3 linked regions of the Homo sapiens genome follow. The protein of the gene in region 2 interacts with the protein of the main gene of each other region in a pairwise test. Each region holds a gene or a part of one and is shown on either strand. Other genes may lie near its edges. The genes, in order: ZMAT4, ADARB1 and PNPT1.

Region 1 (9,940 bases), on a different chromosome or scaffold from region 2:
GGACCACAGACCGATCAAAGCAGGCAGCAGCGAAGAATGTGCGCAGCGTGTCCACATAGGTGTGTGCCTGCACGCACATTTGCATAAGGAAGGGGCTGGAAGGGTCTGCGCCATGGAAACAAGAAATTTTTATTTATTTATTTTTTTGGTTGGAGTCTTGCTCTGTCACCCAGGCTGTAGTGCAATGGAGTGATCTCGTCTCACTGCAACCTCCGGCTTCTGGGTTCAAGGGATTCTCCTGCCTCAGCCTCCTGAGTAGCTGGGACTACAGGTGTGTGCCATCACGCCAGGCTAATTTTTATATTTTTTGTAGAGACGGGACTTCACCATGTTGGCCAGGCTGGTCCCTCGGCCTCCCAAAGTGCTGGGATTACAGGTGTGAGCCACTGCACCGAGCCCAAATCATTTCTTTAACTCATATATCAAAGTTGATACATTTTGGAGTAGAATAGAAAGTCCACATGATTTGAATAATAAAGCATGCACATTTGAAGAAATTCTGGCTTGTGGCAGATCACTTGGATGACACCTTCACATTCGCAGGTCCTCTCTTACAGAGCAGCATAAATCAGTGGAACAGTTTGAGAATTTCCTTAGGCAACAATTTCCCGCAGCTGTGCCCCTATGTCCAGAGCAGCTTTCCTGCCCCTCTGAGCATCTTCAGGTCCCACCCCAAGAGCGGATGTAACATCTGGTCTAGGACAGCCAAGTGGCTATGCATCACAAGAATATTGACCCATGCCAAGACATTCCTGCTATTGTCACTAGGCTTAACATCAAGGGCAGGACATCTGCGTCTTCTTTTGTAGGTTTATTTGCCATCATTCTCTCAACAGCCTTAGAAACAATGATCACTCTGCTTTATAAATGAGGAAATGGTGTGTGGCAGGTGTTGTAAACACATGTTCAATGGGTTCTTTCAAGAAAGCAGCTATGTTAGAACGTGGGTCCTGTCTGGCAGGGGTCCAACAGCTGTCTCCATGTGTGCAGACCTTTATTCTAGAAGGGTGCTTCACACTACACATGGCCTGCCAGCCTCACAGAAGGCAAGCTGACCTTCTTAATTCAGCTCCCCTACCCCTGTCAATTGTTGCATCGCTGGATAATATTTCATGACATCTTTCAGCTGCATATTTCTTATGAAGAATTTAACTGAAGTAAAACAGAATTTAGGTGGGCAATCTAGCTTTGCAAGTCTCTCTCTACCTCTCCATCTGTCCCTGTCTCTGTCTTCCTCTTTCTCTTTTTCAGATTATTTACAACTCTGGCTCACTAATAAATGTGATTGTGATTTAAAGAAACAAAATCACCTGCTTTATTCATCAGGGTATGTTAAATAATAAAATATCCTTACTGTTTTCAAACCTCATGAAGCCTGTATATTCTAATACCAACTTTCTAAAGACTCATTAATAATTAATGAAATCATTAAGAATGGTTCATGTTGACTGACACCCTCCTGGCAGCCACAGTCTCCTCTTACGCTTTGTCAAAATGTCACTGGCTCCACAGGTTTGATTTTCATGGTGGGAGTGGGGGTGTGGGTGGAGGGGGAGGGAGTTTGATTTCACAACAGCTATCAGCTAGAACAGAAAGCTATGAAAATGTTCTTCCAAGTTTCTCTACTTAGGAGACTGTGCTGGGAGAAGTTTTCTGAACAACCTTTCATTCTTCCAATGCTAGGTTCAAGAAATCCTGCTAATATTATGTTTTCATTGAAATGGTATTGTAGGGCTGAAGTCAATAAGCAAAGATGTAGTGTTGAAAGTCACCCCCTTTGTTTTCCTCTTGTTTTCACACATTTTCCTCTTTCTTGGCATTGCCTAGATTTATTCTCCTCTTCTCCCTTTTAGAAACAGAATTTGGCATAAATAAATGATAACTGAGAAAATGGCATACACGGACAAGTAAATGCAAGATTTCTCCAGCCTCCCACGGTAGGTCATGGTCATTTGTTGTAGCAAGTGGTTACCCACAAGAATGATGGAGGTTCCGGCGGCTGCTGTCTAATTTGTGTTTTAATAAAGAAACCCACATTCTTTCCCTAATTACTCAAAATGGAACAGGAACCCCCAAAAGTCTTTCCCACCATTAATGTCCTGAAACTGTTAAATCAAAATGGACTGCTTTGCCGAGTATGGCCCACAACATGGAATTTGGTACATTTCATACCCCAGTGAATTTAAATTGTATGGAGCTGATATTTAATACAAATGCAAGTACCAGTGGAATCTGCATATTTAATATTCATTCTCTAACTCTCAGAATTAAGCAGTTGATCTATGGGACACAAAGGGAGAATCCTTCTCTCAAAGAGGATATTTTATGACCAGGCAGTTTAAAAGACACTGACATAAACAACTGTTTGAGGCTTGCTCTCTTTCTTTCTCTCTCTCTCATCTTCAAAAGGCAAAAAGTACATGTAAGGACATGCTGTTTTAGACAAAGCATTTTAGAAAATCACTTGAAATGTTTTCCCTTTCCTTCAGGGACAACTAAACCTTTGATAGATACTCAAGAGAGTTCTTATAATTTAGTTTATTTCTCTTATTTTCTTAAGGGGGGTGGAAAAAGAGATAGTATGAAGGCACAAAGCTGAAGCCTACTTTCACTCGAAAGTAAAAATCATACTGCTTAAATAATAAAAGTGTTATTTATGGTTTTTACACCATGACTGAACACACCAGATTTTCTAGGACAGTGTCAATTTCAAATGTATAGCTAAGTTTAGTTTCATTATTGTGCCTTTGTGTGATTTCACCTAGACAAAGGAATGAAATAGAAAACAAATATTTTGCTACATCCCTTGCCCTAGTTTTGAATTCCTAATATACGGTCACTGTCTCCTACTCATGCTGATATTTGGAAAGCCATTATGGAAAGGACTTCATTTTTTGAGGTCATGCCTCACAAGTAAAATGTGCATCCCACATCCTTTCATTTCCTTCAAATGCTTGAGGGAGGAGGAAGGTACTGGGTGAAGACCTGCCTCATTTTCCAGAGAGAACACAGAGAGCTTCGAGTGACTCTGGAGCTGCCGCATTTCACAGGCATTTCACAGTGGTTAGTCCTGAATTTTTAGCTCTTGGACTCCAGAGTGGGCCCCCTCCACACTCTGCTCTGCTGGAAGAGTAGTTGCAGTGGAATGAGGGTCGCATGAGGCTTAGGGCTGTGCACCCTGGATGCTTTGAATTGGGTTTTAGTAGTCAGCCCACTTATTGAGTGCTAGGTGCTATCTGTGGAGTGATAAAAATATGCATGATACCATCTCTGTCTTTACAGGGCTTGAAATGTATTTAGGGAAGCCAGGCATGTATGCATGAAATAGAAAGTCACCATACAAGGCAGTGGGGCACCTGCCATTTGCTGCAGAGGACGCAGCTGAAGATAAGGACTACAGCCATTCAAGGCCCCAGGGGAGGCCAGGGCAGGACTGGGACCAGAGCCTCACCAAAGACATGGAGATCCTAGGATAAGAAGGCTGAAGGGTTAGTTTCTGGATCATCTGAAATTTGATATTTTAAAAGCTTTCTTTAAAAGACGCTTTTATAATTCTCTCTTAAAAAATTCAGCCCATTTTGTCCTTTGCCATTTTTGAATTGGGTTATAGGTCTTGTACTTATTGATTTATAAAAGCTCTTTCATTTTAGAAACATTAATAATAAATATTTTACCTAGTTAAGAAAATTTAGCTGCCAAGTGATGTCTTTTCCATATGGTGACAAATACATTAAGGAGAGGGGAAGGTCAAAATTTGTGCTTTATGATTTCTTCTTAATTTTTAAAAATTTTTAATTTTATGGGAACATAGTGGGTGTATATATTTATGGGGTACACGAGATATTTTGATACAGGCATGCAATGTGTAATAATCACATTAGGGTAAATGGGGTATCTGGCACCTCAAGCATTTAGCATTTCCTTTTGTTACAAACAATCCAATTGTACTCTTTCAGTTATTTTAAAATGTACAATATGTTTTGCTGACTGTAATAACCCTGTTGTGCTGTCAAATACCAGATCCTATTCATTCTATCTAACTCTATTTTTGTACCTAGTAACCATTCCACCCCCGCCCCTTCCTAGCCTCTGGTAACCATCATTCTATTCTCTCTGTCCATGAGTTCAATTGTTTTAATTTTTAGCTCTCACAAATGAATGAAAACATGTGAAGTTTGTCTTTCCATGCCTGTTTTATTTCATTTAACAGAATGTCCTCCAGTTCCATCCATGGTGTTGTAAATGACAGGATCTCATTCCTTTTTATGGCTGAATAGTACTCCACTACGCATATGTACCACATTTTCTTCATCTAATTTATCTGTTGATGGACACTTACATTGCTTCCAGATCTTGTCTATTGTGAACAGAGCTGCAATAAACATGGCAGTGCAGGAATCTCTTCAAGATACTGATTTCTTTTTTGGGGGTATATACCTAGCAGTGGGATTGCTGGATCAGATGGTAGCTCTATATTTAGTTTTCTGACAAACCCCAATACTGTTCTCCATAGTGGCTGCATTAATTCACATTCTCACCAGCAATGTAGGAGGGTTCATTCTCTTTTCTTCACATCCTTGCCAGCATTTGTTATTGCCTGTCTTTTGGATAAAAGCCATTTTAACTAGGGTGAGACTTTATGATTTCTTGGTGAACAAGGAAAAGTGTTTAAGCTGTCCCCACCCTTTGATGGGTATGTTCTCTCTTCACGTGCGTAGGTTGTTGATGAAAGTCTAAGCGATTAATTTAAGCCATGTCAGAATAAACCAAAGTGAGGGTCCCAGCAGAATCATTCACTCTAGAATGCTCGGCTTTCTGGACCTCCCAGTGAGAACAGTGAGAAACTCCAGAGTTTTATGGATTTTAAGAATAGCTCTTCTGAGACTCTTTGGACAGGGTGCAAAGGAAAATTGTCTCCTCAGGTTGGGGGATGAGGGGGACTGTGAGATAAAGTACTGATAGATAAACTCCAGGTATGCACCTACTATGCTCCCCAAGCAATCTGCCATGTCCTTCACATGTCCTCCAGGGTGGCCCTGTGAAAAGCATTACTCCATCCCTTCAGCCCTCAACCTTGCTCGGCTTTCTAGAGTCTGTCTCATGCCGGCAGACACCCCATAGTTATTATTCTCTCTGCCCTCAGCAACATTTACCAGTTAGGGGGAAAATAAAGCCAGAAAATTGTTGCTATGGGCTCTGTTTTGTGGAAGTTAAAATGCTAGAGCAAGAATCTGATTGCTTGATAGCTCCATCTCTCTCTCTCTCTCCCTCCTACCCTCCTACCCCCCCACAGTTTCTCCTTCTTTTCCTCTCCCCTCCACCTCCTTCCCCCACCCCGCTCCCCCACATTTTCCTACTCCTCTCCCCTCTCTCCACTGGCCTCCCGGTCCTGCCCCCACATTGGGCTGGAGGAGAGCCTTACAGGTTGTCAATGAAACATGGAATTATTTCCTTTGATGGCTTAGATAATAGTAGGAGCCAAAGCAATGAGTGAGGTCGGCTGAAACCAATGCAGTCCTGCCCGGGACTGGAGAGCCAATCGCAAGAGCAGAGGGCGGGGCGTCGGAGCCAGCAGATAATTGCTAAGTGCATCGCTAGCACAGTTGGTCCGAGCTGCCGAAAGGTCTGGTCGCAGAGACAGGAACGTGTAATCCTCAGCGTGCTCCAGCCCACAGCTTCGCTCTACTGCTCGGCAGGGCAGCTGGCCTCTGGGCACCGGCGGCCCCTCTGCCTCGCGGAAAAGGTACCTCTGCCTGCGTCCCGGGGGTGCAGCGCCTGCGTCTCCATTGCCAGTGGCTTTGCAGTTTAGCCTAGGTGGAGGGATTGCAGAAAGAAAAGTTTCTGGGAGGGAATGTGATAAAGGTGGGAAATCACTGTCTTTTGTTGGGAGGAAAACAAGCGGACAATTTGGGAAACTTCTGCGCTGGCAAGAAATGGGCTTGTTTACTACTCCTAATTAGCTGCGCTCAGGTCTGTCTAAATAGGTCTGGTCTCAGGCTAGGGTGTCTGCAGGGCTGGGGTGGAGATTCGGGTGTGCTGGGTGAAAGAAGTTGGATCCCAGGGTGTGCTGTTTCCTGGTGCACCCATCATGGATAGGCTGGTTCCGAGAGAAACGTGATTGGTTGTTTGTGTTTTCCGCTATAGGGTCTGTCCCCTTCGTATTACCTTGATCTGCCTTCCCCAAACTATTGTGACCTTCAACTGGAGTCCTTCCTCAAACTTCTGCCTCCTTCCTGCCTGTCTCAGTTCATTTTATTTGGTGGAAGGAGACATTCCCCGGGGTGGGTGGGTGAGGATGGTCTATTCTGTTTGACCTGGTGGGCACCTACGTGACAACTTGGTGACACGCCAGCAAAACAGTTCTCAGAGGAGAGGAAATCACATAATTAATTAGCTCCCGAAAACTCTGGAAGACTTTCCAGGCTTGGGGTATCCTGAAAAAAAAAAAAAAAGAAAAAGCCAAAAAACGGGATAGAGAGTTCGGTTTGGTACCATGTGAAGCTTACACCCTTGTCCCCAGAAGGGGTGCCTGGCCCGGAGCATCCCCGCAGCTCTGGGAGGTGGAGGCTGGTGGAGGGGGTGGCTCCGTGTAGGTGCGCAGGTTGTTTTGGTGCACAGGTGCATTTGTGGCAGAGGTGGTGCTGAAGTCACCATCCACACTGCTTCTGCTAACTGCTCTTGAAGTAAAACAGCTCACCCCGGCAGGCAGCTGGTTCAGCCCAGAAGCACCCTTGAGCATTCTAAATCGCGAGACCTCAGGGGCCTCTCTTGCTCTGAGACCCTTGGGAAACTCCTTTCTCCCCCTGCCTCCTCCGCCTTTGGCTTCTGCTAAAGGGAGATATTAGGTAGGTGAGTCACTAGGAAGCAGGGACCCATGGGGAAGCAGGCGATGTGCTTGGTCTCGAACTTTCTTCCTCTTCTGCGAAGGCAGCTTCTGCTTGTGTGCCCACCGCACTTCACCAGTTGCGCTGCCTACCTGCGGGATACTCTGAAGCTGATAGTCTGGGGGTGATCTTCCAAGTCCTAGGGGCATTGAAGAGTTTAGATGATTTTCATCCCTCTGATTTCCGTTAAACCCGCAGCTGGGGAGTTCGATTCCCAGTCCTGACAAGACTGCATGTTCTGGGAGGGATTCTCCAGTGACACCTCTTCCTCAGGGCACCCTTCCACGGAGATGCAGATGACAGTCTTGATTCTCCAGCTCCACAAATCCCTTCCACTTTTTAATTCTTATTTTCTTTAACCACCACAACAGATTCTCCTCCACCTCCTGTAGGCAGCTATTTTGGGTGGGAACTGTGATTATTGAAACTCTATTCACAATGGTTAAAAAAATGCCTGCCCACTTTTTTTTTGGGGGGGGTGTCAAAATACCATCAGCGTTCTCTTCTGTACTTCCTATCTGACAGTAAACAAAACAATTTTGCAGCCCTGCCAATTATAATCTTTTTGTGTTTGGGGGGCCTGGAGCGGAAGCTGAACTTTTCCCAGCCGGTGGGCATGGTTAGTCATGGACGTCGTCCTCTGTGGCCTCTCCAGGGCACGTGACCCCCAGGGAGCCCAGGAGGGGCAGCCCCCAGCACGTGGGGGATCTTGCATGAGAGCACCTTGGTTTTCATGAAGGCAGTAAGGAAACCAGAAAATGCTTTTGAGTTTGAGGATTGCAAAACTGGGGGTTCCCTTTAATTGATGCCAATCTGTTGGATTTCTATCGTGATAGGAAACATTAAAAGTAAGGCATTTGAAACAGCTCCTGAAGGGTGAGTCATGCACAGAGGGAAGAGGCAGTGTGGGGGGAGGGGGCGGAGGGGGCCTTGGAAAGTACAAGTGGGACACGCTGGAGCGCTCGCTTTCCTTCCCTCTGCCTCCTCCTCAATCCTCTTTCTTGTATTTCCCCATTCGGAACAGAGATCATTAAAATAACAACTTTAGACCAAAAAAGGATCCTAGGAGCTGAAAAATAATTGACAAAGTGCAAAACACCCTCATTACAGCTTCACCTTGGATGGGGTGAGGTGTGAAACCCAGGACCCAGCGCCTCTGCTGCGATCCAGTTTGGAGAATCTAATTGCTGGTGTTAGGCTAATTAACTCCTTGTGAAGCTGCGTGCCTGTTTGTGTATGCAAGGACCGATGAATGCCTAGGAAATTAAATGTGTTACTTGTCATTTCATCAAACATGATGGCTTTGGCCAGGACCCTGGATAAGCACTATCCACAGACCCAGCGTTTTCTCCTCTTCCCAATTGGCCAAACTGGATCTCTCTCTCTTTTAACCACTATGGTGGGAAGGGGTTGTGTCTTTCTGCTTTTCCAAGCCCTGCGTGAGTTACCTGGCAAATAAAAGTCCTCTCCTTACCCCTCTGTCCCTCCATCCCTGTCATCCTTCTGTTATCCCTTTTCATCATAAACATATCAGTAAGTAATCTTTTGCCAACCTACTTTGATCTTGTCATTTTGTGCTGATTTTTCTGTTAAAGAAAATTGTCCCCTGAAATAAGACTGAAAACATATTAAAATTTTTATCAGAGAAGAGCCTTTTTGCCTTCTGCTTTAAAATTTAATTTTGTGCTTTTGGGGAAATCTAATAAGCACGCCTATTGTGTTCGCTGTTTTGGTAAACGCTTTTACAATGTCTTGTTTTTTTTTTCTGTGGATGTGTGAATTCCCTTCCTGTCCTAGGGGAAGGTGTGTCTGGAGATTTGAAACACTCTGGAACACCTCAGAAAGTTGAAGAGGTTGGAGCACGCTATTTCCATGTATTCAAGGTGGGGTGAAGGCTGTTTTGAAACCTAGACCCTGAAATGTATTCACCACACTCTGCTATTTTCCCTCTTCATCTTTCATTTAGGAAAATTTCATAGCCCAAATTATGACTAAATCATTCATCCTACTCACTCTCCTTCCCATGCTCGTGCCCCTTCCTCCCTTCCTCCATTCACCCTACATGTAGGGTTACCTCTCTTTCCTGGTTACTTTTTGTTTCTTCCTTCCTGTCATTTCAGGGGGCCCCAGGGTGGAGATCTAATTGTAGATGTTTTGTGCACCTCACTCCTGAAACAGTTAACCAGGGGACATCAGGAATTGTGGAATGTGATAGGAGCCTACCCTAGGGGAGCAATGAGGTAATCCTGTCCCCAAGTTCAGTTCTATGCAGACCTCACCAGAGCACCTGGAGTGGTGCAGCTGACCTGCATGAGGCAGACAGGGCAGATGCTTCGAAGCACAGTCCTGTCTGACACCTGGAGAGTCCCACCAGCCGCAAGCCCTCACTGTGCCACTGTCCTGAGGCCTGCGCCTGCTGCAGCCCCATGCGCAGAGCTGACCTTGGAAACATTAGCATGCAGGGAAATTTGCCTGCTGTGCTCTCAGTTTCTTTGCTCTTTGTTCTCACCCCTAAATCTGTTAATAGTTGGAAAGGATCAAATCTACTCATTCATACTAAGGTGTGAACAGTTAATAGTGTTGCTACTTACAGAGGTATTTACATTCTTAAAGGAAATCAAAGATGTGTGTATGTTCTCACTTATAAGTGGGAGCTAAGCATTGAGTACACATGGACATGAAGAGGGGAACAATAGGGGCCTACCTGAGGGTGGAGGGTGGGACGAGGGTAAGAATCAAAAACCTGCCTATCAGGTACTATGCTTACTACCTGGGTGATGAAATAATCTATCTGTACACCAAACCCCTGCCACGTGTAATTTATCCATTATAACAAACCTGCACATGTACCCCCGGACGTAAAATTAAAAAGTTGGAAAGAAAACAAAAGATGTGCACAGTCAAATTCCAGGCACCTGCTAGTGGGATTGGGCAGAGGCAGACTGAGTTTGGATGGGGAGCAGAGTGGGAAACGGCGGCCTTCGCTTTTTAGCTCTGGCTGGTCCTGCTCTGACCCATGCTGAAAACATGCTGCAGTGTCCCAGGGCTTTGTGATC
Region 2 (10,070 bases):
AAAGTGTCCAGATTCTAAAATCAAATTAAAAGCATGTAATCCAAAGCCTGAAAAAGCAAACAGCTTTAGGGGCTGACTCCATTAGCGTTCCATAGACTGTGCTTTTAACCGTTCAGTTCATGTTTAATGGCCCATCGGTTCCTTACATACCATCAGCTTATGCTGTGGCCAAAAGAAGTGTTCTTGTGGCTTGGTACTCGTCCCTTCAAACAGTAAACAAGAAAGTGCAGACAGTGCTGCCAGAGACAGGAGGATTTTCACATGAGACTGAAAAAGCCGACACACCCTTACAACTAAGTCATGGTCGAGTCGGACCTGCCATCCACCTCCACCAGTCCCTGGAACCCGGCAGGTCAGAGTTTTCTCTAATTCTATTCCCCGGCATCAAGTGAACACTAGAACTCACACGGAAGGCCCCGAGCAACCACTGGCCTCGGGGCTGGGTGCACCCACTCCTCACCCAGGGAGATTGTCACAAAACACGCTAGGGGGCAGAGACGCTGTAAACTGGACACACACGGAACACAATGCCCTTTCCACTTACACAGCGTGGGGATGATAAAAAGGAATCTTTTGAGCAAGTCTATAATTTTACAGAATTTAGAGGTGGGAAAGATGGCCAATTTTCCTTCTTTATGCCTGGGGCAGACCACCTGCTTCTGGGGTAAAGTGTTTGAGAAGGAAAAAGAGCCACTGTACATGTGTTTGTTTTGAGACATGGGCAGGTCCGGATGTGCAGTCTCCACAGCTTCGCTAATCCCATCCTCAGATCTGTGCACAATGTGAAGACGGAGCCGTCCCCTCCTCAGTGTACCTGTGTGAGATTACAAGGAGAGACACTGTCTTCACAAAGAAAGTGGCGATTCCACAGCCTGGAGATAAATATGGTTATTTGAATAAAAATAAATTCCACAGAAATCCATGCCTTGTGAGATACTGGCTTGCACATTTTAAAATAATTGCTTTTAATTACAAAAAATTCTCCAAAATAGGAAAAGATGATGAAAAGTTAAATTAAGACTCAGAATAAAAACTGCAGTTCTTTGGCGTCCCTTGCTGGGAAGAGGTGGGCCTGGCGTACGACCAGGTGATGAGAGCTGAGGAAGGTGGTGACGACATCCATCTGGACCTGTCGCTGCCTCATGGCACAGAACACACCGCCCCACCTGAGACCTCCCACTAGCAGGACTCTGTCCCTGGCAGAGCTGTACCTGAGTGGTCCTGAGGGACAGTGTCTTTGTGGAATTAATACTTCAGGTTTAGTTAACAAAACAAAACAAAACAAAACAACAGAAGCCCTCTCTTCCCCTACTTGTCAAAATGTCCTCAAAATGTAATATTTTTTCTTAAAAAATCAAGTTCCTGCTTGTGTCGAATTTTCTGCTAAGTCTCTAAAAGCCACATCAAGGACACTGGATGGAGAGTGACACGTCAATGAAACAGCTATAGTCTAAAAGTGCACACCGAGCGCTCAGAAGGGAGGGATTAAAGTGCTAAGGTCCCCGATCTGTCTCACGGAGGAGTCAGCGTTCTGTATTTTGTTTATTTTTTTTCTGATTACAGATGAGCTGTCCTAGGAGCAGTGCAGAGCCTCTGGTCCCCTGCACGTCACCTTCCTCCCCACAGCCGCCCCGCCCAGGGCTCCCCGAAACCAGTTCCTTCCTACAGCCGCCCCCTGCCCCGGCCCAGGGCTCCCGGAACCCAGTTCCCCCTGACAGCCACCCCGCCCAGGGCTCCCTGAACCCAACTCCTCCTCACAGCCGCCCCCCAGTAGCCCCCTGCCCAGGGCACCCCGAACCCAGTTCCCCCCAACAGCCGCCCCGCCCAGGGCTCCCCGAACCCAGTTCCTCCCCACAGCTGCCCCACCCAGGGCTCCCAGAACCCAGTTGCCTTGGCTGCCTTCCTCCTGCCTGGACGGCTTGGGATAGGGTGCCCTGTGCCTGTCCTCAAGGCCGCACGAGTCCACCCCGGAAAGGTGCCACCTCACATGGTCTCAAGGTAGCTGCTCAGGCCCCACAAGGTGAGGCACTCACTTATTTGGGGTGGTACAGGGAGCAATCATGCTGACTTTAGCTATTACCTGACAGAAGGGAAAAGCCAGACATACCGGGTAGTTTTGTATGTATATGGAATATATTAACACTAAACTTGGTAACCAAAATCCACATATTTTTAAAAACGAAGTCCATCTCCCAATCCCCATTAGAAAAAAATACAATTTATCAAGACAATAAAAATGCACAGACTTACAAGGTGTTTTTTCTAGAGTGTGCAAGAGCCTGCTTGGGGGAAAGCCAGCGACAACAGACCCCTCTCCTTCTGCAGGTGCAGAACCCCAGCGCGATCTGCCTGAACAAAACCCCACTGTGGTGACGGAGCGGCAGAGACGCCTGCTGTGACTGCTTCAGGGAGACAACTACCCTCTTCGGTGGAGGAGGAGGCTGCTGTGGGGCAGATGTTCTAGCCGCTGAACCCGGTCATGTCCCCAACAATGAGCCCTAAGCAGCACCCCTTCCTGCCGTGCTGCGACGAGATCTGTGTGGACACACGTGGATGGGGCTCCTGACATCAGGAGGCACACCCCCCGCCGAAGCCACGGTGTTTCAGTTTTGGGGTCTGAGCTCCCAGCGTCCGGTGGGAGGATGACGCCCCTCTGCCCCTGCTCTGGTTTCCTAGGCTCATCACGGACACACAGGTGCCAACACCCTGGATTTCGCTGTGGCAGGTGTATGCTGTGGGGTAAGGTCTGCACCAATCTCTCCCCATGGCCCCAGGAGACCCACCTGAACACCCTCTAGAGCCTTGGAGCTGGGCACTGCACTGGCAGGCAGAGCACTTCTCTCAGCTCCTCTTTCATCCTGAGCGGAGGCAACAAGGCACCTGGTGCAAATCTCTGAGCTTGGTGGAGGTGGTCCACACAGGGCCCTCGCCCGCCGCGCTCCTGACCTCCCGGGCTGACTCCCTCTGTCGTGGGGCCGTCCCGTGCACGCTGGGCGCTGGGCAGCCCTGAGCTCCCGTCAGGACTGTCAATGTCTGGCCTACACTACGCCAGCAGCACGTGGTCTCACCAGCTCTCACTTGGATGCTTTTTATTTTTCAAACATGTCTTTGATAAAGCTGGAAACAATAATTTAAAACTATGGCATTTTCCAAGAATGAGTATCTACTGAAATCATTCTACTTCCATCCTGTGAAGGCCTTCGGGCGGTCACCCACATCCATTCGATTCAGAGGAAGGAACAGAGGGAACTTAGGCCATGTATTGTGCAGTAGCCCTCGTGATTCCTTCTAGTCCATAAAAGTTAAATATCCTTTAAAAAACCTGAATGAATGGCCAGCCTGGGATTACTGGCCATGTATTATCTGTGATTACTTAGAAGTAAACTGAGAAAAGTTTTCCATGATCTGATCCTACAAGGAGTACAGAAGCTTCTAGAGGAGGCTGAGGGCTACAGGGGCCTGGGTCACGCCTCTGCAGGACACACAGTCACTGCTGCGGGACCCCATGTGCATGACAGGGCCACGCTACACCATGCTGGGAGTCTGCTCCTCAGGGAGAGACTGTTACAACCTAGTGTGTGGAACTACCCAGGGAGGTACCTACGGAGAAAAGAGACCTAAGTTTAGACAGACGTGTGGCGATTTCCTTTAGGCTACTATTTCCTACCTCTATTTTCCCACCCTCCTCCATATATAGATGCTTTTTTGCAATTAAAATAATGTGGCATAAAAGTGACCTGACACAATTACTTCCTATTTTATAAACCACATTCCTAGCTCTGAATAAATTATTTATTCAAGAATTTCACACAAAGTAATTTCTATTTTCCTAAACTTAAGGAAGCCCTACTCAGTAGAACTCAATTTCTAAACGTAAACCGAGATTGAAAGCAGTCACTGGACGGTTCAGAAGGGGAAATGCTGCGGCAGAGAGATGCCAGGCGGCGATGCTGGGCCCTGACGCACCCCATCCCCTCCCCACACTGCGCACCTGCCCCAGGTCTGATGTGAGATGCTGGGGACAACCGTGGACACCTGGTGGTCCCCCGTGTCCCCCTACTCCCTCCCCAAGGTATGCACCTGCCCCCAGTTCAGATGTGAGGTTCTGGAGGATGACGCTGGATGCCCACAGCCCCCTGCACCCCCCATCATGTCTGCCCGGGTCAGGGCGTGAGTGAGAACTGGTCCTGCTCGGTGGGCTTCTCCACCCAGGCCCCCAGCCCCGCCTTGATGAAGGCTGTGAACAGACGCGCCTTGGCGGCCTGGTACTCCTTTGCCGCCAGCTTGGACTCATGGTACACGTTGGGCTTGGTAATCTTGGAGCGTAGTAAGTGGGAGGGAACCTGTGAAGGGATAAAAAAACAAATGCAACTGTTGACGCTGTAACAGATGAAAACAACACCTAATAAGATACCAAAACATGGCCTTCAGAACTGCATTGGCTTCTGGGGGGAAAGCAACCCAGAGGAAGGCGCCTTCTGCCAAGGGAACGGCTTCACACAGAACAAGGTGCGGCGTCTCCTAAGGGCTGAGTTATTGCCAAGTTCCAGTCTTGCTGGTCAAACAGGCAGCTACAGACCCCCGAGTTCTGAAGACATGCTTCTGGGAAACCACCAATAGTGGATTCACGTTTCATTTTTAACTCTAAGAAGCACCACGGATGTTATGTGTGTCATCACCCTGATGACCTCGGAGGCCTTCCCTCATGCGGCCAGTAACTCCTTCTGTGTGGACCTTGGACTTGTGGCAGCTGGCCTGGGTGCTGCCCCTGGTGAACAGGACCCTCCCGGGCACTGTCCCTTCTGGCTATACCTCCCATGCCAGTGCACAATGCTGGTCTCAGAATAAACAGATGCCATCTACTTGACTGAAGAATACACACAAACTAGTAATACCCTGACTTACTATATAAAGTTTTATTCTGGGGAAAAAAGGGCCCCACAGCTAATTCAAAAGGTTTAAAAACTCCACTGGAGGGTTATCACAATCCAAGCAATTTTTATGTTGCTGAGAAGGAGGGGACAGCAGGGTGACTGGCCCTGCGTTTTGCATAATGACTTTCAATATCTGAGAGTAAGAGACGTTTCCACCACACACAGTGGCCTGGCAGTGGGTGTTACCCTGCAGCAGGGAGGAAAAGAGCTGCCTTTGAGATGGCATTAAGGTTTCAGGGACGTAGCCACACTTCTAAGCTAAAACAATCTGAAGGAAGAATCATTCCAAGTGATCGTTTTCGGAAGCTGTGCATGATGACATGATGAAACAACTTAAGGAACAGTAGGTGTGAGGACAGACAAGCTATTGGGGAGGTGGAGCCGGCGCATTGCGGTGAGGGCGCCTCAGTACCTTGCCGTGCACACGCATCCAGCGACAGTACAACGCGTGCTTACACAGGCGGGACGCGCGGCCCAGCTCATCCTTCCCAGTCGTGGCGTTGATGACCTCAATAGCGGAGTCGCCTACCGTCCAGTTGACACTGAAGTTGGGGGCCTTCCCTGGCTGCCGTGCTTCTGCATTGCTGATGCCTGAAACGGAAGACACAGGAAGGTGGTGTGAAGCCCGCTTTCACCCCCAGGGAGGGAGCAGCCACGGGCGGCACACTGTGCTCAGACATGGCCACAGAAGTGCGTGGTGGGGGAATTCTGCCTGCCGAGGAATATACGCAGACTTGAGCGTGCATCTGCCGTGGCAGTGGCCTCACACTCTTCCACGGCCACCAGAATAGGAGCAGTGCTGAGAAAGCAGAACTGACCCACGGGTATGCACTTGTCTGACAGGGCAGGTGGGCAGAAGATTGACAGAAACCTGAAATCATGAGACTTCCTGACAAGTGTGTCTTTTCTCACTCTGGCACTGACGGAGCCAGGAACCTTGGCAGCCTGAGAGTGGATGGGTGGGAGCCACTTCTGAGACTAATGCAGGGTCCCATGAGGTCGTGCAGGTGGGGGTTGCTCCTGTATCACACCACCTCTGGCGCTCATGCCTGCATGTGCTCCCCTGCCACTGAGAGGCCAGGCATGTTCAGGTCACGTGGCTTTGCATGTGTGACATCCATGATGCAATAGGAAACCCTAATTCTTAACAAGAGTCTTGAAAAAGTTCATGGAAAATGCTTATTATGAAAAAACCTCATGGATTTCAAAATTTTTTGGCACCAAAATAAACTTGTACTAACTTGCTGAAACATGTCTGAATAGGATCTAGTTTGAGGCACTAAGAAGATTAAGACATCTGTTTGAAAAGCGCTCCTATCAGAGCTACATGACTTCTGCTAAAATTGAAGCAAGAACAAACATCAAACAGGAGATAAAAATAGCTTTTACAAAGACAATCCTGAAGAAAATGCATAATCCAAAAAAAAAAAAAAAAAAGGCTACCAAGAGGCAGAAGGGGCCCAGTCAAAGCACAGGCTGACTGGCCAAAGCACAGGCCATGGCAGCATTTTTGGGATGCTCAAGGCGTTTTGCTTGTTGGGTTCACATGGAGGGCCAAAGGATGGTAATATCTGCTTATGATGACAGTGTTTCAAGAAAGTGAGCCAAAGCTTTAGCAGAAACCCCCTGGGGAAGCTTCGCCAGAGACCTTCACCATGACAAAGCGCCTATTTATTCCTCTCATCAAACAAGGGCAAGTGTGTGAGGGTTTCGAGAGGAAATCATGAGCCATCCACCTTATGGTGGTTGCAAATCCACCTCATTTGGCTCCTTCTGACTTCTTTTTGTTTCCTAATCTCAAAAATTCCTTAAGGGGCATGCTTAAGGAATTTTTCTTCAGTTACTAATGTAAGAAAGACTGCACTGACATGGTTAAACTCCCAAGACATTCAGTTCTTTTTTTCGAGACGGAGTCTCACTCTTGTTGCCAGGCTGGAGTGTGTGGTGCGATCTTGGCTTGCTGCAACCTCCACCTCCTGGGTTCAAGCGATTCTCCTGCCTCTGCCTCCCAAGTACCTGGGACTACAGGCGCGTGCCACCATGCCCAGCTGGTTTTTGTATTTTTAGTAGAGATGGGGTTTCACCATGTTGGCCAGGATGGTCTCAATCTCCTGACTTCATGATCTTCCCGCCTCGGCCTCCCAAAGTGTTGGGATTACAGGCATGAGCCACCACACCTAGCCACCATTCAGTTCTTTAGGGACAATCTAAATGGCTAGGATCAGCACTTACAAAAATGTCTTGAATTTGATGGAGCTTATGTTGAGAAATAATGTTTATATCTTTAAACATTTTTTTATCTTTTAACTTTATGAACTTTTTGAAGTACCCTTGTACTTATTTTCTTGCTGTGTTTAAACGATCTCATCTTAACTAATCACAGGCTAATTCTGCAGGGTTGAAAGTTTTTAAAAAGACACTTGCATAACTCGGAATTGAATACATGTATCTGCATTTATATATTGAGCTTGATAATTCATATCACATGGATGTTATAGGCCACCAAAATCAAAACTAATTTGGGATATGAATCTTTAGAACATGCTTAGAACATGGGCAGACTCATATTCTGAACCCAGACACTGAACTGTCAAGCCCACTGGCCAGAAGCAGCACACTGCACTCTCAGATGACTCAGTACAACTCACTTCGTGCCCTGTGGAGGCCACCCCCACCCCGTCACCATGCTCACTTGCTTTCAATGACCATTTATCCCTCCCTTGGAGAGATATCAAAACCCAGATGACAGTTCACTGTTCAGAGTAAGGAACCCAGGCAGAGTGTAGCAGATCCCCTGAATTGAGAGTCAAGGGAAACCAAGTCAGCCAGATTTCATAAGACAGAGTACCGGAAGGAAGAGACATGCAGACAGAGTGAGCCCTGGAGATACGCAGAGGGTGTCCTTGAATATCCTGCGGAGCACTGATCAGAGTAGGCATGTTACTCAATCAAGGCTGGGAAACAGCCTCCTGAGAGAATGGAAAAGTGCCTGACATTCACATATAGAAGATACAGACATAAAGATATAAAAAGGCCTAAGCCAAATTTCTAGAGAGGAAAACTACAATGTATTAGATAAAAAATACACTTGATGGGACTAACCACAGAATAGAAACCGCAGAAGAAAAGATTAGTGAACTTAAAGACACAGTAACAGAAACTACCAAAAATGAAACACAAAGAGAGAAAAAAAGAACAGAAAATCAGTGATATGGGGCAGGTTTAGGTAGGGTGAAATATGTGTAATTAGATTTCATGACGGTGAGGAGAGAGAAGGGGGAACGGAAAATATATCTGAAGAAAGATGAATAAAAAATTTCCAAATTTCATGAAACCAACAAACCCATGGATTAAAGAATTTCAATGAATCCCAAGCACAAGAAACATGAATAAAACTATATACCAAAGCACAACAGAACAAATTGTTCAACACTAGTATTAAGAGAAAATCTTAAGCAAACCCAGAGCAAAAAACACACAGAGGAATAAAGATAACAACACATTTCTTACTGGAAACAACGCAAACAACAAGTCAGGGAAGCAATGTCTTTAAAGTGCTTAAAGGAGAAAAAGGACCCTGCCATTCCAGCAGAAATATATTTGTACAGCAAAATATACTTCAAAATGAAAGCAAAATACTTTCCCAGACATACCAAAGCTGAAATAATTCATCATCAGAAGACTTGTGCTACAAGGAATGTAAAAGGAAGTCCTCCAGCCAGAAGAAAAAATGATACCAAAATGGAAATCCAGATCTATACAAAGAATGAAGAGCCCTGGAAATGATAGCTACATGGATAAATATACAAGAGGTTTTTTTCTTATTATTTAAATTCCTTTAAAAGATAATTATTAAGATGAAAATAATAAGATGTGGATTTTTTTAACACATGCAAAAGTGTCTGAAAACAATACCACAAAGGTTGGGAATGGAAAAACGAAAGTATCCTGTTGTAAGGTTCTTTTACTATATGTGAAGTAGTATAATATCACTTGAAGGGAGATCGTGGTAAGAATGCATACTATAAACCCTAAAAACCACCACCAAATTAACAAAAGTTACAGCTCAAAAGTCAAGAAGGAGTCAAAATGGAATCATCAAACACACCCAATTAAGGCAAAAGCAGTAAGAAAATGAGGAAAAAGTGAACAAAGAACATATGAAACACGTAGAAAATAAGTAGCAAGATGAAATTTAAACCTAATAATATCAATAATCACAATAAATGTAAATGGTCTAAGTACCTCAGTGAAAAGGCAGAGATTGTCCATGGTGGGAGAGAGAAGCAAGATCCAAACATATAAATATATATAAATATATGTCTATAAGAAACATATTTTTAAGATAAAGTACTTTAATATAAAGGGATAGAAGATACACTGTGCTAACACTAATCAAAAGAAAGTTGAGGAGGTTATATTAATCTCAAAACAAATTTCAGAACAAACACTATTACCAGAAATAAAGAGGGTCATCATATAATGGTAAAGGAGGTCGGTTTATTAAGATAAACCAACAATCCTACATTTTTATGCATCTAATCACAGAGCTACAAAATACAGGAAGTAAAAACTCTAAAAAAGGGGAAGAAATAGATAATGTACAATTATAACTAAGAGATTTTCAATCCTGCCTCTCAATAACTGATAGACCAAGTAGAAGATCGGTAAGAATATAAAAGAAAATAAATAGTATAATCAAACAACTTGGCCTAATCAACATTTACAGATCACTCTACCCCAAAGTGGCAGATTCACATTCTTTCAAGTTTTGTGGAACACTTATAAAGATAGATCATATTCTGGTCCATAAAACCAAGTCTAATAAATTTAAAAGGACTGAAGTCATTAAATGAAACTAAAAAACCAACAACAGAAAGATCTCTGTAAAATCCCTAGTATTTTGAAACTAAATAGCAGACTTCTAAATAACCCAAGGGACAAAGTATTTTAATATAAGTGAAAATGAAAACATATCATAATTTTTAAATGCTACAAAAGCAGTAAAAAGGGTCTTAAAACAATGACCTCAACTAGCACCTTAAAAAACTACAAAAAGATGGGCAATTGAAACACCAGGTAAGCGGAAAAAAAAGAAATAATTAAAATCAGAGTAAAAATTATTGAAATATAAAA
Region 3 (10,070 bases), on a different chromosome or scaffold from region 2:
TTAACAGATTCCTATTATAATCCCAATTTAATTTTACATTTACTTTGAAATCATAAGGTGTTTAGATTACATGCCAATTGCCATATAATCATTATTTTTTAAGGTATAGTATATTTTGTTTTCTATATCATTTTATAAAATTAAAGTAGCAGTTCTGTGGTTCTAATTATGATAGGTTCTCTTAACTGAATTCTTTTTTTTTTTTTTTTTTTTTTTTGGGACAGAGTCTCGCTCTGTCACCCAGGCTGGAGTGCAGTGGTGCGATCTCAGCTCACTGCAAGCTCTGCCTCCCGGGTTCACGCCATTCTGCCTCATCCTCCCCGGTAGCTGGGACTGCAGGTGCCCGCCACCACGCCTAGCTAATTATTTTTTGTATTTTTAGTAGAGACGGGGTTTTACCTTGTTAGCCAGGATGGTCTCGATCTCCTGACCTTGTGATCCGCCCCCCTCGGCCTCCCAAAGTACTGGGATTACAGGCTTGAGCCACCGCGCCCGGCCAACTGAATTCTTTAACCAAATTTTCTACTAGTAATTGGTGAAACCCCAAATTAATTTTCCCAGTAAATATTAAATAGGCCCAAAATAGACTTAGCAATATTTCTTTATTTCTTTTTTTTTCTTTTGATGGCTTATTTTAAACATATCTGAATGCTTAATTGGCACATATTTTTAAATCCAATTTCGGCTGTGCATGGTGGCTCACGCCTGTAATCCCAGCTCTTTGGGAGGCCAAGGCAGGTGGATCAGGAAGTGGGGGGTTCGAGAGCAGCCTGACCAACATGGTGAAACCCCATGTCTACTAAAAATACAAAAGTTAGCCAGGCATGGTGGTGCATGCCTGTAATCCCAGCTACTCAGGAGGCTGAGGCAGGAGAATCGCTTGAAGCCGGGAGGCAGAGGTTGCAGTGAGATGAGATCGCACCACTGCACTCCAGCCTGGGCGACAGAGCGAGACTCCATCTCAAAAAAAAAAAAAGCCAATTTCAGTCTCAAAGCATTTTTTTTGACCAGCTAGAAGAGCTTGTTTTTTTAGGATAAGAAAATCCCTCTTTTAAGAAAAAGGAAATTATCAAATGTAGCAAAAATGTTCAAAGCTATTTGAAATAAAATAAAAGGCAAGGAGATAATTTGTTTAATATTGCAGGTGAAAAATAAGAAATGGGATGGCTTATTTTCATAGATTAGAGAAAAAAGGGAAGATTAGTTTTTTAATGAAATAAGTATTCCATTTTACCTGACCACCTTCCTTAAATCCTTACCTTACAGGTTAATCATATGAGATTCTATACTATTTTTAAAATATTTAATGTCATTTCGAAAATTTTTGGAAAATCGAGACCAGCCTGGCCAACTTCGTGAAACCCCATCTCTACTAAAAATACAAAAATTAGCTGGTCATGGTGGCACATGCCTGTAATCCCAGCTGCTTGGGAGACTGAGGCATGAGAATGACTTGAACCTGGGAGGCGGAGGTTGCAGTGAGCCCAGATGGCACCACTGCACTCCAGCCTGGGTGGCAAAAAAAAAAAAAAAAAAAAATGTTTTTGGAAATTGTTAAGAGAAATACAGAAGAACATATATTCTAAAAGTTTTTTTTGTTGAGACGGAGTCTCACTCTGTTGCCAGGTTGGAGTGTAGTGGCACGATCTCGGCTCACTGCCACCTCCGCCTTTCGGGTTCAAACAATTCTCCTGCCTCACCCTCCTGAGTAGCTGGGATTACAGGTGCGCGCCACCAGGCCCAGCTAATTTTTATATTTTTAGTAGAGACGGGGTTTCACCATGTTGGCCAGGGTGGAGTTGATCTCTTGACCTCGTGATCTGCTCACCTTGGCCTCCCAAAGTGCTGGGATTACAGGTGTGAGCCACCGCACCTGGCTCTAAAAGCTTTTCTATTGCATGTTTTTTCTTTATCTTTTCTTCATTCTTTGATTCACACATATTTATTTATAGGGTATATTTTCAGTTGAAAAGTATACTTTTTATAGTTCTAAAAACGTGCTAGAATTGTTTCTTTTCGTTTTTTACTTTTTCCTCATATGAAAACAATGTTTTATTTGTCAATGGATATACAGATACTTATTATTTTAACCAGGCTTACTATTTATTTTTTTGTAGAGATACTGGTGTAATGGTAAAATTATATCCAAATATGACTGCGGTACTGCTTCATAACACACAACTTGATCAACGAAAGGTAAAAAGACAGATGTTATTGTTATTATTTTTATAACTGCCTTGAAACACTGTATTGAAATTACCTAGGTTGGTAAGAATTATACACTTTGCCTACTACTAGCCTAAACAGAGAAAACAAGTGGCAGAGATGCTGCTGGCAAAAAGTTTTACATTGTTTAGCATAAAGAAAAATTGGCTGGGCAGGGTGGCTCATGCCTGTAATCCCAGCACTCTGGAAGTCCGAGGCGGGTGAATCACAAGGTCAAGAAATGGAGACCATCCTGACCAACATGGTGAAACCCAGTGTGTACTAAAAATACAAAAATTAGCTGGGCGTGGTGGCGTGCGCATGTAGTCTTAGCTACTCGGGAGGCTGAGGAAGGAGAATCGCTTGAACCCGGGAGGCGGAGGATGCGGTGAGCCAAGATTGTGCCACTGCACTCCAGTCTGGCGACAGAGTGAGACTTTGTCTCAAAAAAAAAAGAGTGTCTGTTTTACCATATATTAAAATATATTATAAAGCCATAGACAATAAAATAGTATATTACCGGCCCAGAAATAGATAATCCATGCAACAAGAAAACAAAAACTAGAAATAATATACATGGGATTATAATATACGCTAGAAGTTGTATTATAGTCAGTGAATAAAGATTATTTAATAAATTATATTGGTACAGCTGGTTATCTTAAAACAGGATCTCTACTCATTTTTATACCTAAATCCTGTCTGGATCAAAGAGCTAAATGTGCTTTTTAAAAAAGGTGGTAGGAAAAGATAATCTTGTTGGGGCAGGAGGGTTTACTAGAAGAAAATTGGATGTTTTAATAAGATTAGTAGTGGAGAACTCCTCAACATGATATCAAAGCCAAAAAAGTAAATAAACTTACAAAATTTGACCCCATAATTTTTTAATTATATGGCAAAAATTTCAATAAGGTTAAGAGATAATCAGCAACCTAAAGTAAAAATGCTTATATGCAGAAGCTTAATTTACAAAGGGCTTTTATAAATCCGTAAGAATGATGAATATCAATAGAAAAATAAGTAAAGAACATGAACAAATTATTTTTATAAAAAGCCAACCAAGATATTTAATATCAACAGCAATTTTTGAAATGCAAATGAAATTAAGATATCAGTTTTAACTTTCAGATAGTTTAAAATTCTCAGTGTGTATAAGAGAAAAGATGGACATTTTCATACACTGTTGATGGGGGTGTGAATTGGGACAAACTTTTTAGAGGGTGTTTGGTAAATGTCTATGGACCTAGACATTGTAGGATTTTATTTGGAGAGGATAATTAGAGTAGATGAATTCATGATTTGTGCTACACTGCAACTTATTTTTTTTCACCTTATTATTTTGAAAAGTTTTTAATGTACAAAGAAGTTGAAAGAATGATACACTAAACCCTCATATATCTTTCTCCTATATTCATCAGTCATTAACATTTGCAACACTGGAATTTAAAGCAATTTATTGTCTTTAGGTGATTGTTTAAATAAACTATATAGTTTGAAACTTAACGGTAATTCTTAATTTATTGATATGAAAAGATGTCCTTGGGCCAGGTGCAGTGGCTCACGCCTGTAAGCCCAGCACTTTGGGAGGCCAAGGTGGACGGATCACTTTAGGTCAGGAGTTTGAGACCAGCATGGCCAACATGGCAAACCCCCGTGTCTACTAAACATAGAAAAAATTAGCTGGGCATGATGGCGTGCACCTGTAATCCCAGCTACTCTGGAGGCTGAGGCAGGAGAATCTCTTGAACCTGGGAGGAAGAGGTTGCAGTGAGCGGATATCATGCTACTGTACTCCAGCCCGGATGACAGAGCGAGACTCCATCTCAAAAAAAAAAAAAGATGTCCTTAAGATATACAGTAAGCACAGAGGGTCCATTTTTATAAATGCCGTACACATACACTAAGTAGACATCTGAAGGGATACTCATTGGAATGTTAGCAGTAGTTATCTACAACTTGAGAGGGTTTTGAGACAGGGTCTTGCTCTGTCACCCAGGCTGGAGTATAGTGGCATGATCACAGCTCACTGCAGCCTCAGCCTCCCAGGCTCAAGTGATTCTCCCACCTTAGCCTCTGGAGAAGCTGGGTCCCCAGGCACAAACCGCTACACCCGGCTAATTTTTTTGGATTTTTTGTAGAGATGGGGTTTCTTCACGTTGCCCAGTCTGGTTTAAGCAGTCCTTCCACCTCGGCCTCCCAAAGTTCTGGGACTACAGGTGTGAGCCACTGTACCCAGCCTGTTTTGGATAATTTTTATGTTCTTAATACATCTGTATTTTAAATCTTTATAATTAACTGATTTTTTTTTTTTTTTCTGAGACAGAGTCTGACTCTGTCGCCCAGGCTGGAATGCAGTGGCATAATCTCAGCTTACTGCAACCTCTGCCTCCCAGATTCAGGCAATTCTCCTGCCTCAGCCTCCCAAGTAGCTGGGACTACAGGCGTGTGCCACGACACCCAGCTAGTTTTTGTATTTTTAGTAGAGATAGGGTTTCACCATGTTGGTCAGACTGGTTTCGAACTCCGGAGCTCAAGTGATCTGCCTGCCCCAGCCTCCCAAAGTTCTGGGATTACAGCCGTGAGCCACCATGCCCAGCTGATTTTTTTTTTTTTTTTTTGAGACGGATTCTCTCTCTGTCACCCAGGCTGGAGTGCAATGGCGTGGTCTCGGCTCACTGCAAGCTCCACCTCCTGGGTTCACGCCATTCTCCTGCCTCAGCCTCCTGAGTAGCTGGGACTACAGGCGCCCGCCACCATGCCCGGCTAATTTTTTGCATTTTTAGCAGAGATGGGGTTTCACTCTCCTGACCTCCAGAGATGGTCTCAATCTCCTGACCTCTTGATCTGCCCGCTTCTGCCTCCCAAAGTGCTGGAATTACAGGCTTGAGCCACTGCGCCCAGCCGCTAACTGATTTTTTTAATCAGAAAAACTAATAAAGCTTGAGGAAAAAATGTGTACTTCCATGGACACTACATAATTATGCACAACAACTAATAGATTAACATTTTTTTTTCCAGATTAAACATCCTACTGCCCTAGGATTAGAAGTTGGCCAAGAAATTCAGGTATTTGTATTCCACCTTTTAGCCTTGAAGTTGTAAATTGTTCTTGAAGCTTCCATTGTTTTTTTCAAAAAGTTGAAAGAAGAGTCACCATCTATGAAGTTTTTTATTTGTATGCAGTACTTCATTTTTAATCTTAGAATTGCTTGAACAGACTCATTAAGGATTTAAGACACAATTCTTTCCCTCAAGGAGCTTGCAGCTTGGCCAAAATGGTAGTCACCCTTAGTTCGTTTAAAAAATACATGAGCATGTTAGTGTTAGCTATGCAGACTCCATGATTTGGGCACTGACGTAAGAACTGTGATAAGGTAACTTGTTAAAGTCTTTGAATGTCATCTTTGAGGAGGTGAGACTTTGTTTCTCCACTACTTAAAGTTTTTGAGCTTGGTAAGAGCCATGTTATTCAGGCCTAGAATTCATATAACAAAATTGGCCCTTTCTTTGTAGTCCTTTATGAGTGGATGAAAGAAGTCATTGCCAGTCTGTTTTTTCGGGCTCCACCACATTGTCTTTCACTTACGCTAATACGCATGACCTGAGTAACTAAGGCTTCTGGTTTATTCCCAATGTGTAGTCTTATTGTCCAAGTAGCCTCCAGGGGAAGATGAGTGCTAAGATATAGTATCTCTGTATAAGGTTGATTTTTTGGTTTATTTGTTGTTGTTGTTGTTGTTGTTGTTTTCACATCAGAAGGAACTTTAAACCTTTGCATTTGCCCCTGACTTTCATTTTCCAAGGTGAAGCCAAATAAACACTAATGTGTTGGTCCTTTGAGCAGTAGTGAAAATCCAAGTGACCTAAGCATAATCCTCTATAGTATATAACACAATTAGGCTCTCAAAGCCCTTGTCTAGGATCATTCACTATGCCTGTGACTGTTCCCCCAGTATAAGGACTTGGCCTGGTGAGAATAAAAAGGCACAGATGAGTTCAGCGGCAGATTATAGTTGAACAACTAACTGCCCCGTCTCTTTTCTCTTTTATAATGACTACTTATATGTGTTAAGTGTATACGTCCACTTAGCACTGAACAATGCTTTCAGTGAACAAGTAAAAACAATCATTGCCTTATTTGGACCATGTAAATTTAAATGTCTATTAGTTTAGATGTCACTCAATGTGCTGTAACTTTAAAGGAAGATCTGTTTCTTTAACACAGGTGAAATACTTTGGACGTGACCCAGCCGATGGAAGAATGAGGCTTTCTCGAAAAGTGCTTCAGTCGCCAGCTACAACCGTGGTCAGAACTTTGAATGACAGAAGTAGTATTGTAATGGGAGAACCTATTTCACAGTCATCATCTAATTCTCAGTGATTTTTTTTTTTAAAGAGAATTCTAGAATTCTATTTTGTCTAGGGTGATGTGCTGTAGAGCAACATTTTAGTAGTATCTTCCATTGTGTAGATTTCTATATAATATAAATACATTTTAATTATTTGTACTAAAATGCTCATTTACATGTGCCATTTTTTTAATTCGAGTAACCCATATTTGTTTAATTGTATTTACATTATAAATCAAGAAATATTTATTATTAAAAGTAAGTCATTTATACATCTTAGAAAAAATTACATAGTTTTGTTTTTACAATTCTGAAATATATGAAAAACTTAGATAGAATATGTCATATGTTATTATAACAGATCTCTTCCTACATCTTATTTTTCTTCTTTGTATACAGTAGTGACAGTTTACCTTCAGTCATCCTACAGGTCACCTCTGTGCCCAACAACTTTACTTGCCTACAACGGTTCACAAACTGGAACAGGCCATATTCAAAGCCAGTGCCTATTTCTTCAGAACTGTTAACAGATATAGTGAGTTGAGGGAGCTAATCTGATACACTTTTGATAATATAATGCCTTTCAAATTAGTTACCAAATCATAAACAGAGTGGAATAAATATAAATGAGATTCTAACTAGGATGAATGTGGTAGTAATGATGTATATTTTTCAAATTTACCTAAACAGAAAGATTATTGGCTAAGGCAGGCGGATCATGAGATCAGGAGATCGAGACCATCCTGGCTAACACGGTGAAACCCCGTCTCTACTAAAAGTGCAAAAATTAGCCGGGCGTGGTGGCGCATGCCTGTAATCCTAGCTACTCAGGAGGCTGAGGCAGAAGAATCACTTCAACCCAGGAGGTGGAGGTTGTAGTGAGCCGAGATTGCGCCATTGCACTCCAGCTCAGGCAACAAGAGCAAAACTCCGTCTCAAAAAAAAAAAAAAAATTGTTTACTTATCAAATTGAACTAGGTCAATTTGAATATGTGTATTGCTCTAATGTATGGAAGTTCTTAGTATAAGAGCTGAAGGATCATGACTTTCGGTTAATAGATGTTTGAAATAGATGTTTAGAGGTTACTGATACACATGTCAAGTTGTTCATTCCCATCATTTAAAATATCACCTTATAATTCCACAGAAAAGTAAATGGTATGTGGACGTCATAATTTAGAATGTGTAATCTTTTTTAAAATCTTATAAAAATACACTGGACTCAGTGGTACGTGCCTGTAGTCCCAGCTACTTGGAAGGCTGAAGTGGGAAGGTCACTAGAGCCCAGAAGTTCGACACTGTAGTGTGCAACAATCATACCTGTGAATAGCTACTGTACTCCAGCCTGGGCAACATAGCAGGACTCTTATCTCTAAAAAAAATTTTAAATCTTATAAAAATGTAGGTATATCTGGCCAGGCATGGTGGCTCACACCTGTAATCCCAACACTTTGGGAGGTCAAGGCGGGTAGATCACCTGAGGTCAGGAGTTCGAGACCAGCCTGGCCAACATGGTGAAACCCCATCTCTACTAAAAATACAAAAATTAGCTGGGTGTGGTGGCGGGCGCCTGTAATCCCAGCTACTCAGGAGGCTGAGGCAGGAGAATCTCTTGAACCTGGGAGGCAGAGGTGGCAGTGAGCTGAGATCGCACCACTGCACTCCAGCCTGGGCAAAAAGAGTAAAACTCCATCTCAAAAAAAAAAATGGTGGGCACAGAAGCTCATGCCTGTAATTCCAGCACTTTGGGAGGCCGAGGCGGGTGGATTACATGAGGTCAGGAATTCAAGACCAGCCTGGCCAACACGGTAAAACCCCATCTCTACTAAAAATACAAAAATTAGCTGGGCATGGTGGCAGGCACCTGTAATCCTAGCTACTCGGGAGGCTGAGGCAGGAGAATCACTTGAGCCTGGGAAATGGAGGTTGCAGTGAGCCGAGATTGCGCCATTGCACTCCAGCCTGGGCGACAGAGCAAGACTCCGTCTCCAGAAAAAAAAAAAAAAAAGGTAAATTCATGACTCAGGGTTAACTAGTTCATAAAATATTACAAATTTATCTGGCTAAACCAAAGATTTTTAAGTCAATAAACATTGATTATATATCTATTGTGTGTAAAATAGCATGTTAGGCAATGTTGATATACTTCTGAAATATTAAAGATTAATTGAAAATGAAAGATTAAATTTATTTGCTTTCTACACTTGATATCGACTATTATTTAATAACAGTAACAAAAGTTTTTATTCTCACTTCTGCTTTCTAAGACATAATTCTTATTTTAAGATATCATCCTTAATGGTAGAATTTCAAAATTGCAATTTGTGTTTTTCTTAAATTTTCTGTTTTCTTTTTCAAAGGAACTCCCAACTCCTAATAATATGGAAAATGAAGCCAGTTCTTAAACAAACTCCAGAAACCTGAACTGACACAAAGTACAAATACAGCTTACTAACTGCAAACCACCAAAAGAACACCATTTCTGCTTAAACCAAGAGCCTACACTTTATGTCTGAACTTTTCTTATTTTTGTCTTCATTTAAATGTTGGTAGTTTTCCCTACTTTCCAATGAAGTTTTTCTTTTTCTTTCTTTCTTTCTTTCTTTTCTTTTTTTTTTTTTTTTTTTTGAGACAGAATCTCACTCTGTTGCCAGGCTGGAGTGCGGCGGCGCAATGTTGGCTCACTGCAACCTCCACTTCCCAGGTTCAAGCAACTCTCCTTCCTCAGCCTCCCTAGTAGCTGGGATTACAGGTGCCCTACACCCGGCTAATTTTTGTATTTTTATTTTATTTTTTCTTATTTTTTTGAGATGGCATCTTGCTCTGTCGCCCAGGCTGGGGTGCAGTGGTGCATTCTCAGCTCACTGCAAGCTCCGCCTCCCGGGTTCACACCATTCTCCTGACTCAGCCTCCCCAGTAGCTGGGACTACAGGCACCTGCCAATATGCCCGGCTAATTTTTTTTTTGTATTTTTTAGTAGAGACGGGGATTCACCATGTTAGCCAGGATGGTCTCATCTCCTGACCTTGTGATCTGCCCACCTCGGCCTCCCAAAGTGCTGGGATTACAAGCATGAGCCGCTGCGCCTGGCCCCAATGAAGTTTTTCTATGACGGCTATATTATATGCTGGAAACACTAATTTATAGTGACTCAGATCAAACTGAATGCCATCTTTGGTGGTTAGCTCAATACAAGTACTTAAAAGTAAGACTTTTTTTCCCATGACTTTTGTTTTGATACAGGAACACACATACTCCATAAGTTACTGTTCTATCACAGTACAGTTTTTATATAATCATTTTTTCTTCTATTACAGAATATCTTACATTCTTGGATCTAAAATGAAAACATGAATATCTTTCTTAGTTCAGTTCAGCCAAGCATAGCATTCTTTTATTCATCATTTAACATGTGCCAGGCATTATAAGGTATGCAGGGGATGTGTCAGTAAATAAAAGACCTAAGTTAGGCCGGGCACGGTGGCTCACACTTGTAATCCCAGCACTTAGGGAGGC

What was found.
Region 1: the proteins of ADARB1 (region 2) and ZMAT4 interact in binary tests that used the Homo sapiens proteins (3 or more experiments, as listed by UniProt).
Region 3: the proteins of ADARB1 (region 2) and PNPT1 interact in binary tests that used the Homo sapiens proteins (3 or more experiments, as listed by UniProt).

The regions. Positions count from the first base shown.
Region 1 is NC_000008.11:40,893,486-40,903,425, reverse strand, and holds the start of ZMAT4 (zinc finger matrin-type protein 4), read left to right. Parts: upstream 1-5,599; 5' UTR 5,600-5,743; intron 5,744-9,940.
Region 2 is NC_000021.9:45,216,291-45,226,360, reverse strand, and holds part of ADARB1 (double-stranded RNA-specific editase 1), read right to left. Parts: intron 5,526-10,070; coding exon 5,347-5,525; intron 4,344-5,346; coding exon 4,164-4,343; 3' UTR 815-4,163; coding exon of another isoform or gene 806-814; 3' UTR 1-805. UniProt on the Homo sapiens protein: Catalyzes the hydrolytic deamination of adenosine to inosine in double-stranded RNA (dsRNA) referred to as A-to-I RNA editing.
Region 3 is NC_000002.12:55,632,753-55,642,822, reverse strand, and holds the end of PNPT1 (polyribonucleotide nucleotidyltransferase 1, mitochondrial precursor), read left to right. Parts: intron 1-2,117; coding exon 2,118-2,196; intron 2,197-5,223; coding exon 5,224-5,271; intron 5,272-6,430; coding exon 6,431-6,586; 3' UTR 6,587-8,762; downstream 8,763-10,070. UniProt on the Homo sapiens protein: RNA-binding protein implicated in numerous RNA metabolic processes. Catalyzes the phosphorolysis of single-stranded polyribonucleotides processively in the 3'-to-5' direction. Mitochondrial intermembrane factor with RNA-processing exoribonulease activity.